3 linked regions of the Homo sapiens genome follow. The protein of the gene in region 3 purifies or fractionates together with the protein of the main gene of each other region. This does not show direct contact. Each region holds a gene or a part of one and is shown on either strand. Other genes may lie near its edges. The genes, in order: FTO, UNC13B and DIRAS2.

Evidence for each region.
Region 1: the proteins of DIRAS2 (region 3) and FTO purify together in Homo sapiens (affinity purification with mass spectrometry; 2 studies listed by BioGRID and IntAct, with this or other methods). This does not show direct contact.
Region 2: the proteins of DIRAS2 (region 3) and UNC13B purify together in Homo sapiens (affinity purification with mass spectrometry; 2 studies listed by BioGRID and IntAct, with this or other methods). This does not show direct contact.

Annotation. Positions count from the first base shown.
Region 1 is NC_000016.10:53,819,156-53,822,755, forward strand, and holds part of FTO (alpha-ketoglutarate-dependent dioxygenase FTO), read left to right. Parts: intron 1-3,600.
Region 2 is NC_000009.12:35,159,569-35,163,401, reverse strand, and holds the start of UNC13B (protein unc-13 homolog B), read right to left. Parts: upstream 1,394-3,833; 5' UTR 1,119-1,393; coding exon 1,097-1,118; intron 1-1,096. UniProt on the Homo sapiens protein: Plays a role in vesicle maturation during exocytosis as a target of the diacylglycerol second messenger pathway.
Region 3 is NC_000009.12:90,636,102-90,639,934, forward strand, and holds part of DIRAS2 (GTP-binding protein Di-Ras2), read right to left. Parts: intron 1-3,833.

The sequences.
Region 1 (3,600 bases), on a different chromosome or scaffold from region 3:
ATATATTTTCCAACTTTGATACAGTTAATATTTATTTATTTATCTATCTTTGAAATGGGGTCTCACTCTGTGGCCCAGGCTTAGGCTCACTTCAGCTTCCACTTCCTGGGCTCAAGCCATCCTTCCACCTCAGCTGCCCAAGTAGCTGGGACCACAGGTGCATGCCACCACACCTGGCTAATTTTTTTGTATTGTTAGTAGAGAGGGGATTTCACCTTGTTGCCCAGGCTAGTCTCGAGCTCGTCAGCTCAAGCAATACACCCGCCTGAGTCTCCCAAAGTGCTGGGATTACAGGTGTGAGCCACCACGCCCAGGCAGTTAATTTTTTTATGTGCTAAGAGGCTTCTCTATTAATTTGCTTGTGAATGGGTGTGTGTGTGTGTATTTAAATTTTTAATGGTTCTGCATTAATGTTTCTGCATTCCTGCCATATAGGTTGTACTTTTTTTTTCCAGTTTGTTTGCCTTTTAATTTTATGATTTATTTTATACAAAAATTTAAATTTTCAGATATTCACATCTATCAATCTTCTTTTTCAAAAAGTTTATTGATTAACTGTATATGTGTATAATTTACATACCATAAAATGCACGTTTTGAAATTGTACAATTCAGTGATTTTTGGTAAATTTCCAGAGGCATACAACCATCATCACAGTAGTTTTAGAACATTTTTAGCACCCCAAAAAGATCTCTCATGCCTCTTTACATTTAGTTTTCTTTCCTGCCCCAGCCAAGATCTCCACTCATCTGCTTCAGTCTTTTAAAGCTTTTATTCTTAGAAAGGAGTCTTGAGCACTTATGTGGAACCAAGTGATGTGGCTATAACAGATACTAATGCTATTTTCTTCTTCTTCTTTTTTTTTTTTTTTGAGATGGAGTCTTGCTCTGTCACCCAGGCTGGAGTGCAGTGGTGTGATCTCGGCTCACTGTAACCTCTACCTCCCGGGTTCAGGTGATTCTCCTGCTTCAGCCTCCTGAGTAGCTGGGATTACAGATGCCCGCCACCACGCCCAGCTAGTTTTTGTATTTTTAGTAGAAACAGGGTTTTACCTTGTTGGCCAGGTTGGTCTCGAGCTCCTGACATCAGATGATCCAGCTGCCTCGGCCTCCCAAAGTGCTGGGATTACAGGTGTAAGCCACCGCTCCAGGCCACTAGTACTATCTTCTTTTAGGAGCTTGTGATCTTACAGGACAGATTATTAAACTAATAATAGTTTAAATAAATATAGTTACAAATAGATAAGTGCTACAAAAGAGAAGTAAAGCGTGGGGAGTGATAACAGAGGGCACCTATTTGAGGGTGGAGATTCAGGAAAGGTTTCCTTTTTTTTTTTATTATACTTTAAGTTTTAGGGTACATGTGCACATTGTGCAGGTTAGTTACATATGTATACATGTGCCATGCTGGTGCGCTGCACCCACTAACTCATCATCTAGCTTTAGGTATATCTCCTGATGCTATCCCTCCCCCTCCCCCCACCCCACAACAGTCCCCAGAGTGTAATATTCCCCTTCCTGTGTCCATGTGATCTCATTGTTCAATTCCCACCTATGAGTGAGAATATGCGGTGTTTGGTTTTTTGTTCTTGCGATAGTTTACTGAGAATGATGATTTCCAGTTTCATCCATGTCCAGGAAAGGTTTCTATAAGAAAATGACCCAGGGATGGGAAGGACCATCCAGGTGTGGAGTTGGGGGAGGAGCCTGGGGGAAGTATTTAAGAGCTGGACACTTGAGGACTGCAGGAATAGAAGCACATATGGTCAGAGAGAAAGGGGACATGATCTGAGTGGGAAAAAAATGGAATATTTTCCCATGCCATTATTTTCTTTTTATGCTGTTTTTTATGTCAAGGTATTTACAGATGATATTTATGTGGTTATATGTTTTTCCTGGTCTATAGGGTTATAATTTCCCCATATTAAATATATCTTATGCAGTGTTGAGACCCAGTGTATGTTGAATAAGGGCAGCAGAATTTTAATGGGGGGTGGGCAGGCGTTTGTGCATATGAGTGCATTATTTTCAGTATTCCTTTCTTAGTCCCAGAGGGGAGTGTGTTCAGAAACAGAGTTCTTGGGAATTACCATACTTTTCTTTATTGTTTTATACTAAGGACCATTCAGAGAGTACTGGAGGTGTTAAGACAGTGTGAAGAAATTACCTTCTTCATCACTTCTTCATCATTGCTTTGAGTATACTGGGGCCTCAGGGACTTGCTAAGAAAGTAACCAGTATAGTGATAGAATTAGAGTTGCTGCTCATGGCTTCAGAATATTTGGTCTCTGCTTACAGGATTGCATTGCTTTCTTCATAAGCTATGTAAATAGAAAGTACGATATCACTGTTTCTGTTTTCCAATGGGGATAACTAAAATATGGAAACTCAATCCTTAATGGATCCCTGACAATCTCAATGACAATCCATAGTGGTATGCCACATGACTCTTCTCTTTGTCACTTTCAATTCATGGTCAACACCTCAGATAGGCATTTTGAGAAGCAGGGCAGTCCTACCACACTTACCTAGTAAAGTCATTTTTTCACATTCAGACTTGACTCATTCATTTTTCTTCTGCATACTTCCTCCCACTTTCTGCATGTCTTCTATAATATCTCCTGCACTCTGCCTCATTCAGAACAGGCTAGATTATGCTATAGTAACTGATAACTCTCAAATCTCAGTGGCTCCACACAATAATATTTCTTGTCCATTTTATGTATCATTTGTGGGTTGGCACAGAGTCACTACCCATTAAAGTAGCTCAGAGATCCAAGCAGCCACCAGCTGGTTGCTGTGGCAGAGGGGTGCAGAGTATGCTGGAGGGTCTTGCAGTGACAATGACATGTTCCAGGCTGGAAGGGATGGCCATCATTTTTCACTGGACAGAAGTAATCCCATGTTTCATCCATCCTGAGGGGACCAGGAAGTGTAATTTTACACTGGGCCCAAAAAGCTGGGTGGCAGAGGAGGAATCCAGAACTATTTGGCAAACAGCTCTAATGACCAGCATACATTCTTAGCTAGTGATTCACCTTAACTTCATTGAGAAAGTCAGAGCATTCTCTAACTACCACCCCTCCAAAAGAAACCCTAGAACGTACTCATCTGCCTACTATTATTACATTTATCATCCTATCTGAATTCATACCTTCTTTTTCCTTCTAGCCTATTCCAATATAAGAAGTATCTTCTCTCCTATCCACATATTTTTGATCACATACTCTTATCAGTAGATAAGCACATACAGTGACATCCTAGAAAGTGTTTAACAAGTGGCCTGTAGGGGGAAAGAACCAGCCTTGATTTTTAGTGTTTTTTGATTTCCGCAGTGTAAATACTCTCACTGTGGACAGTTTCAAGCCACCGTCACGGTGTTACTGAATGTGCAGTTGGAAAGAGATGCACACAGTGGGCTCTCATGAGCCAGTGTGGACTGACTCCAGCACACCACCAGTAGTGTGCTGGTGGTAGTACTCATGTACTCGTGTCTGTTTTATAATAATATTCATATTAAACCTATTTGTGTGTATATGTGTGTGTGTATATATATATATGCATACATATTTTAATAATGCTTGAGTTCTTTCATTTTATA
Region 2 (3,833 bases), about 55 Mb from region 3:
GTGGAAGAGAACAGAGCAAAGCAGTTTCATCTGCCAGTAGCTGGGGGAAACATCGTTATTGGAGAAATCACAAACAACAACAATGCTTCTAATCTGTAGAGCCAAAAGAAATATGAACTCTCCAGTAAAAGATATCAGGTAAAGGCTCTAGTTGATAAATGCTCTCTCATTCATAATCAAGACACATCAGATATGATAGGCTGTAACCTGAATTTCCCGAGATCAAATTCAATGGCTAATCCAAACCCTGTGTTTTCCTGATCAGATAATCTCTCTGAAGTCACAGTACTTGCATTCATTCAAAACCAGCATTAAGCTTCTACTACGTCAGACACCAGGAATACAAAAACTAATAAGAAACAGTCTCTACCCACATAGAACTTAGTTCGCGTACCATGCCTCATCTTAAACCCCAAAGCTCTTGCTTTAAGATATCTTCTTAGATGGGTCAAGTGTCCTCAGGGGAAAAGCAATAATGGCCCTTCACCTTGAGTTACTGTGAGGCAAGCTAAAATAAAAATAAAAATAAATCATACCTCTTATCCTCAAAAGCAGTCACCACATCCTCCCAAGTGGAACAGAAGAATAATCTTAGCCTATACTACCGGTTAGTGTTCAGGGAAGTGGCAGGGGACAAGACAAGCAATAGAAGGGATGTGACAGCTGTACCACTAACGCATTCAAAGTGTGATAAAAAGAACCTGCTACTAAGCATACTGTAGCGTTACGGTGCGAGGAGGAGGAAAAGAATGAGAGGCTGCCCACCATTCACAGGCACCAACCATCCGCGGTCTTCTAACTCGTCCACTCTCACTAGAGAACCCCAGTCACTGTTTAATAGGATCTGAGCCTGCAGTCCAACAACATTGTCACATGGCTACCAGAATGGAGAGCTAATCGTCCCTTGCAGGAGCTTGGGGGAAAACAAGAAAGTGGAAAGAACTCAAGTGATTGTTAAGTGATTGCCAAAATAATAGACCCCCAAAGCACGGACGGGATGTAAAGTTTGGGTGAGACGGTCACCGGACGTCCACTGGAAGGGTGCGGGGACCTCTACGCCGACACCCCGCCTCCCCGCCTCAGTCCGCGCACTCACCGCGCACGCAGAGCAGTGACATGGCCGAGGATCGGGCAAGCCTCTGCCGCGCCCCAGCCGCGCCGGACCGCTCCCTCTTTCCTCTCAGCAGGTGCCGCGACTGCTCTCGTTACCGGCCCCACGGGTCTGGCAGCTCCTCATGGTCCCGGTCGCAGGTAGCGTCCCGCCGCTGCCTCGGACCCGCCCCAAATCTCACCGTCTGAGCGAACTCCGGGTAGCGGTGAGTACCGGCCGGCAGGCTGGGGACTGGGCGCGGCACAGCGACGCCATCGCTGGGAGGTAGGAGCTGCCGGGACTCCCTCCCGTCATTCCACCCGGGATCCGCGCGAGCGCCTGGGCGGAGCCAACCCGTGGTGCCCCGCCCCCCAGCCAATTAACTCACGCCCAGTCCACCGACCCCGCCCCCCCCCGCGAGCACGTAGGAGGCGGGGTCCCCTTCCTCCTTTCTTTCTTGCGATCCTGAAGGAAGCTCCGCCCACTAATCAGGCTTACTGCAGGGAGCAAGGGGTTGACCCTCAGTTGTGTGACGCGAGAATGGAAGCCCTCTGTTCCTCCTGCATGAGCGGGGCTTCCACCCAAGAACAGATTCTTTTCATTGAAGGATTTCCACTGGACTTTCTTAGAGTCTAGCGGTCATAGCTGACAGCCTGTAATTTTAAGTTAACGAAGTCGCACCGCACAGCAAAGTTAAGTTTTGTTTAGCAACTAGGGCAAAAGACAAAACTGAGTGGGCATAAAGTATGTCTGGAGACCTCAGTTCTTATCTAGACCGTTTTTTATGCTCATCATTGTATCTCCAATGTCTGGAATAGTGCCTAGTGTATGGTAATCAGTCCGTAAATATTTACTGAATGAAGGATGGTAACCACGGAGGGATTGTGAGTGGAGATACCTCTGATCTTTGACAAATCTCCTATCCATGCTTGGTACCAACATGAGCTAACTCCATGGCTCAAACCAACAGGACAATTTGCTAAGGTCTAGGAGCACCCCCTCCAGAGAATCCCTGATCTCCCAAAATTTGGTCGAGATCTAAAGTTCATTTTGTTGTACAACTCCCTCTATTATTATTATTATTATTATTATTATTATTATTATTTTGGAGTTTTACTTGCTTCCAACAAGGAAGGCAAGTTTTCCTGCTTCCATGACGAGGGAAGGCAGGTAACTCTTTTATGGAGTTTGAGCTCACTTCCAACAGGGAAGATGAGGGGTTTTTTTCCTACTTCTGGGATGGTAGACAGCCGTTTTCAGCCTGAGACGCACCCCTAGGTAAGTAGCTGAATAGGGATTTTTGTCTTGGCTAAAGTTAACAACCAGCTGGTCTTAATTTCTGCTTACCATTAGAGTGCTCAGTGATCATATTGTTGGGTTTTTTTTTATTTTGTTTGTCTTTTTCCCATTGACCAACTCTACTTCACTTGGTCAAATCCAAGTGAGAATTCCAAATTATGGGTAACAAGGCCTATCTAATTTGAGTAAAATTCCTCACAGCTGCAAAAGAAAAAACAAACAGAAAACAAAAAACCATGTATTTGGTTTCTGTGTTTGCTTCCTGGTCTTAAAAATTAAACTGTTCTTAGGCCGGGCGCGGTGGCTCACACCTGTAATCCTAGCACTTTGGGAGGCCGAGGCGGGCGGATCACGAGGTCAGGAGTTCAAGGCCAGCCTGGCCAACATAGTGAAACCCTGTCTCTACTGAAAATACAAAAAAAATTAGCCGGGCATGGTGGCGGGTGCCTGTAATCCCAGCTACTCGGGAGGCTGAGGCAGGAGAATTGCTTGAACCAGGAGGCGCAGGTTGCAGTGAGTGGAGATCGAGCCATTGCACTCCAGCCTGAGCTACAGTGTGAGACTCTGTCTCAAATTAAAAAAAAAAAAAAAAAAAATTCAATTGTTCTTTTGTTTACTTTTCTTCCACCCTATACCTCCTTCACCCTTTGCCATCTGCATTACCAAAAAATCGAGAGAAGGCTTCTAATGACTTGAACCTCTTTAAAGAATTTAGGCCGGGCGCCATGGTTCACGCCTGTAATCCCAGCACTTTGGGAGGCCGAGGTGGGCGGATCACGAGGTCAGGAGTTCGAGACTCAGCCTCGCCAACATGATGAAACCCTGTCTCGACTAAAGATACAAAAAAAGTTAGCCAGGCATGGTGGCACGTGCCTGTAATCCCAGCTACTCAGGAGGCAGAGGCAGGAGAATCACTTGAACCTGGGAGGCGGAGGTTGCAGTGAGCTGAGATCGTGCCATTGCACTCCAGCCTGGGTGACAGGGCAAGACTCTATCTCAAAAAAAAAAAAAGAATTTAGAACAAAGGTGCCACTCACCCCCTTTTGGGGTGTTCTCTTGGCTTTGTGGGATTTCAAGAGTCATGGGCAGATTCTTCTTAGGTCTAAAGCTCTGTTTTCCTGTATTGCATGACCTGACCTTTTTGGCTTTGGGTGCCAGAGATGACCTTGCACTGTGAGAGGATTTGACCTTGGTGTGTATATTGTTGGAAAAGAGCTACAAAGTTACGGGTGGCTGAGCACAGTTTATAGGAAGTGGTTTTGGCTGTTTCCTTTTTTTTTTTTTTTTTTTTTTTTAATTTTCTCTCCTAGGAAGTCGTTGTTTAAGAATCCTAATTCTAGGCCAGGTGCGGTGGTTCACACCTGTAATCCCAGCACTTTGGGAGGCTGAGGCGGGCGGACCACTTGACCCCACAAGTTCAAGATTAGCCGGGCCTGGTGGTGTG
Region 3 (3,833 bases):
ATCTTGGCTCACTGCAAGCTCCGCCTCCCGGGTTCACGCCATTCTCCTGCCTCAGCCTACTGAGTAGCTGGGACTACAGGCGCCCGCCACCACACCCGGCTAATTTTCTGTATTTTTTAGCAGAGATGGGGTTTCACGGTGTTAGCCAGGATGGTCTCCATCTCCTGACCTCGTGATCCACCCGCCTTGGCCTCCCAAAGTGCTGGGATTATAGGCGTGAGCTACCTGCATTGAGGTAGGGATGGAAGCCAAGGGTGTGGATAAGATGGTTTGCAATTATGGTGCCCGGCCCTGAATATTCTTACAGAATGCCTCTGTAAGAATAAACATATCACCAAAAAGTTACCATGCAAAAATCAACAATATTTTGTTTGAAATGCAACAAAATATGACAAACTTGAATATTTCTACAATGTGGTAACTTCATTGGCTCATTGTTTCACATTAACTCACAATGGCAACTTACTCAACATGATTTTTTTCTCAATCACCAGAAATGGTCTCTTGTCAAAAGCATAAATTGAATGGTAGTGGAACATTTAGCATGTGACTAAATGATTTGAGTGGTCATTGCTAAGGGAGCAGAATTGTGATCAAGTGTTAACAAAATGGTACATAGTCAAAGAGAGACAGATATCAATTGATAGCTATTTAGTCAGAGAGATAGACAAATACATGGAAGTATGGTATACACAGTGTTTCATGTACAGTTGCTCCTCAACTTACCATGTGGCTACAGTCTGATAAACCCCTCATAAGTTGAAAATATCACGTCAAAAATGCATTTAATACAACTAACCTACTGTATACCATAGCTTAGCCTTGCCTACCTTAAACGTGCACAGAACACCTTCATTAGCCTACAGTTGGGCAAAGTCTTCTGGCAACATAGTCAATTATAGAGTATCAGTTGTTTCCCTTGGTGATCATGAGGATAACTAACAGCTATGGCTCACTGCCACTGCCCAGCATAGTGAGAGAATATCATAAAATATATCACTGCATATCACCAGCCCAGGAAAATATCAAAAATTGAAGTACAGTTTCTACCGAATGTATGTAGTAGTCCCACCATTGTAAAGTCAAAACATCATACATTGAAACATTGCAAGTTAGGAGCCATCTACAGATTTGTTCATATTAGTATATATAGAGCCAGATTGTGTTTTTTAACAGCTTCAGAAGACTCTGCTGAGGGATAAGCTATCATTTATTAACCACTTTCTTGCTATTTTCAGTCTTTTGCTCAATGAAAACCTTATACTTAAATATTTCATGTTTCTGAGCCTATCTGTAGAGAAAACTCCTGTAAATGGAACTGCAGAATCAAACGGTAGGTACACTTCAAATTGGGTAGAGATGGCCTGTTGCTGTTGAAAATTACTATCAAGTTCTCCATCACCTGTCCCATGAAGGTGTATGAGTGCTATTTCCCCAAACCTTGCATAATATGGTGTATTATCAAACTCTTTGATCCCTTCCATTGAAACAAGATGTCTGTTTCTCATTACTGAATTAATTGCATTTGCTTAATTTGGGTGACATTGAGCGTCTTTTCTGTTAAAAGTGATTGGTATTTGTATCTTTGAAACCGGTGTGTTCTTGTTCTTTGCTCGGTTTTTAGTAGTTTGCAGGGATGGTATTATCTTAGATTAAGGCCGTGGCTCTCCGGCTGTGCTTGAAAGATCAGCACTGTCCCCTTCACTGGGACCTTGTTAGAAAGCCTGTTCCCCGTTGAGTCAGATCAGCTGAATCAGAGTCGCATGGGTTTGAAGTCAGCAGTCTCAGGCTTAGCAAGGCCATCAGGTGATTCTGATGCTTACAAAATTTGAGAACCACTGTATTTTAAAAAATTAGGCCTCATCTGAAATATGTTGCAAATATCTTTCCTTTGATGTTATCTATTTTTAATTGTCTTCTGGACAGAAATTTAAAATTTCTGTATATCCAATTTAACAAACTTTTCCTTTTTAGTATTTCAGTTTGAGTTCATCCTTAAAAAGTCCTCCCCTACTCTGAAACCACTAAAAATTCTCCCATATTTACCTCTTCGTTTTTTATGTTTAAATATTTGTTACAACAACTTGATTTATTTCTGCATCTTGAAACTATTATGTATGTGGAGGAATTTAAACTAGCATTTAAAGAATGGAAGAACAAAAAAGAGAGGCACAAAGCATTATATGTAAATCTGGCAAAATTAAAAAAATAGATAAGCACATGGTTTTCATGATATTCAGAGAAATTCAAGTTCTTTTCAAAATCTAGGTTACCCAGCCATTTCTATTATCCAGTAGTTCTATCTCTTCTTGGCTTGCAAACATTTACACAGACCTTACTCAAAAGCTAATGTCAGTTTTACATTTTGTGGTCTGCTACCATTCCTTCTGTAATAAGAACCCAGTGAAGGCCAAAGAGGTCCCAAGAGAGAAGCACAAAGGTAAAGAGAAGGAAGCAAAAGGCTTAGTCAATCCCTTTTTAAGTGTCAGATGATTGTTTTATAGGCAAGGAGGCAATGAAATACTCCATTGATCATGTGTGTGTGTGTGTGTGTGTGTGTGCACGTAATTGGGGTGGTAGGTAGCTGGGTGATAAGGCTGGGGAGATGAGTCTAAGTTTGTACAAAAATGGCACTGAGCTGGATTTTTTTTATGCAAATAGAGAGCTGAGTGGACTCCACCTGGATTTGCCCTCGATGAAGAAACCTGGATTCTGATCACTTTTCCTTTTTGTTCCGCATCTTCTAGAGAGAAACTCCCAAACTCAAAAGGCACAAAAGTGCTCCAATAAAACAGAGTGTAAGGATGACAGAGGAAGGAAATCTTCCTCCTTCAAAGGCTCCTTTGTCTGAGCTCTGATGATTATCTAAAGATGGTAAAGGAGGAAGGGCGTGTGTGTGTTTATTATGAGAAGGCCTAATGGAAAGTTCTTGCGTTCTTATTTTCTCAGAAAAATAATCACTTTGCAGACATTAATTAGCTTTAGAAAAATATTGCCCCAGATCCTCTCATACAAAACGCTGCCCTCTTTAAGTCTCCTATCATAATTTCTGAGACAGAGAACCATGTGATGGAAATTGTACCCACCCCACGAGCACTCACTGATCATGGAGGTGTTCAGGGATTAGATAAAGAAATGGACATATTTTCATTAAGGTCATTAATTTCTGTGTTTCAAGAATCCGGTATTCATGGGTCAATTATAAAGCATGAGATTTCACCCTAAACTTTATCTAATGGTGTCAAATAGAGACAAACATTGAAAATACTCATACCAGTAAAGCATAATACTAAAAGATCTGTGAAATATATTTTATTGCATAGTACAGAATAGCCCACTAGCTGTTCATTAGTTTTATAATGGGTTTGCTGCTGCTTGTTCAGTAAAAGAAATTATATGAGAATTGAATGACCCATAATGGGACTTGCGGGCTAAGTTGCTGACCTCTGCAATCAAGAATAAGGTTGAAGCAAACCCGGGGGGGCAGTACTTCTTGGGATAGAAGTTAGTAGTGGTGCAAAATGATGATGCCCATCAGGCATACCTGTTTCCTTTGTTTCTGCCACAATAAACCCCTAGGCTGCATGTGAGTTGGATCCCTCGTATCTACTCACTGGTTATTTTTCATAGAATCACAGGAATTATTTGATCTAATCCTTTTGTCTTTCTGATAAAGAACTAAGTAATAGGTTCAAGACAGCACCACAGTTAATGGCAGGAAAGAGAAGGACACATAACTCACAGCAATCTGAGATCATTTGTATATTTATTTTTGATAGCGCTTAGTTGGTGATGGCGCCGAACATGTTAGCTTTTAAATTACCGTCAATTGA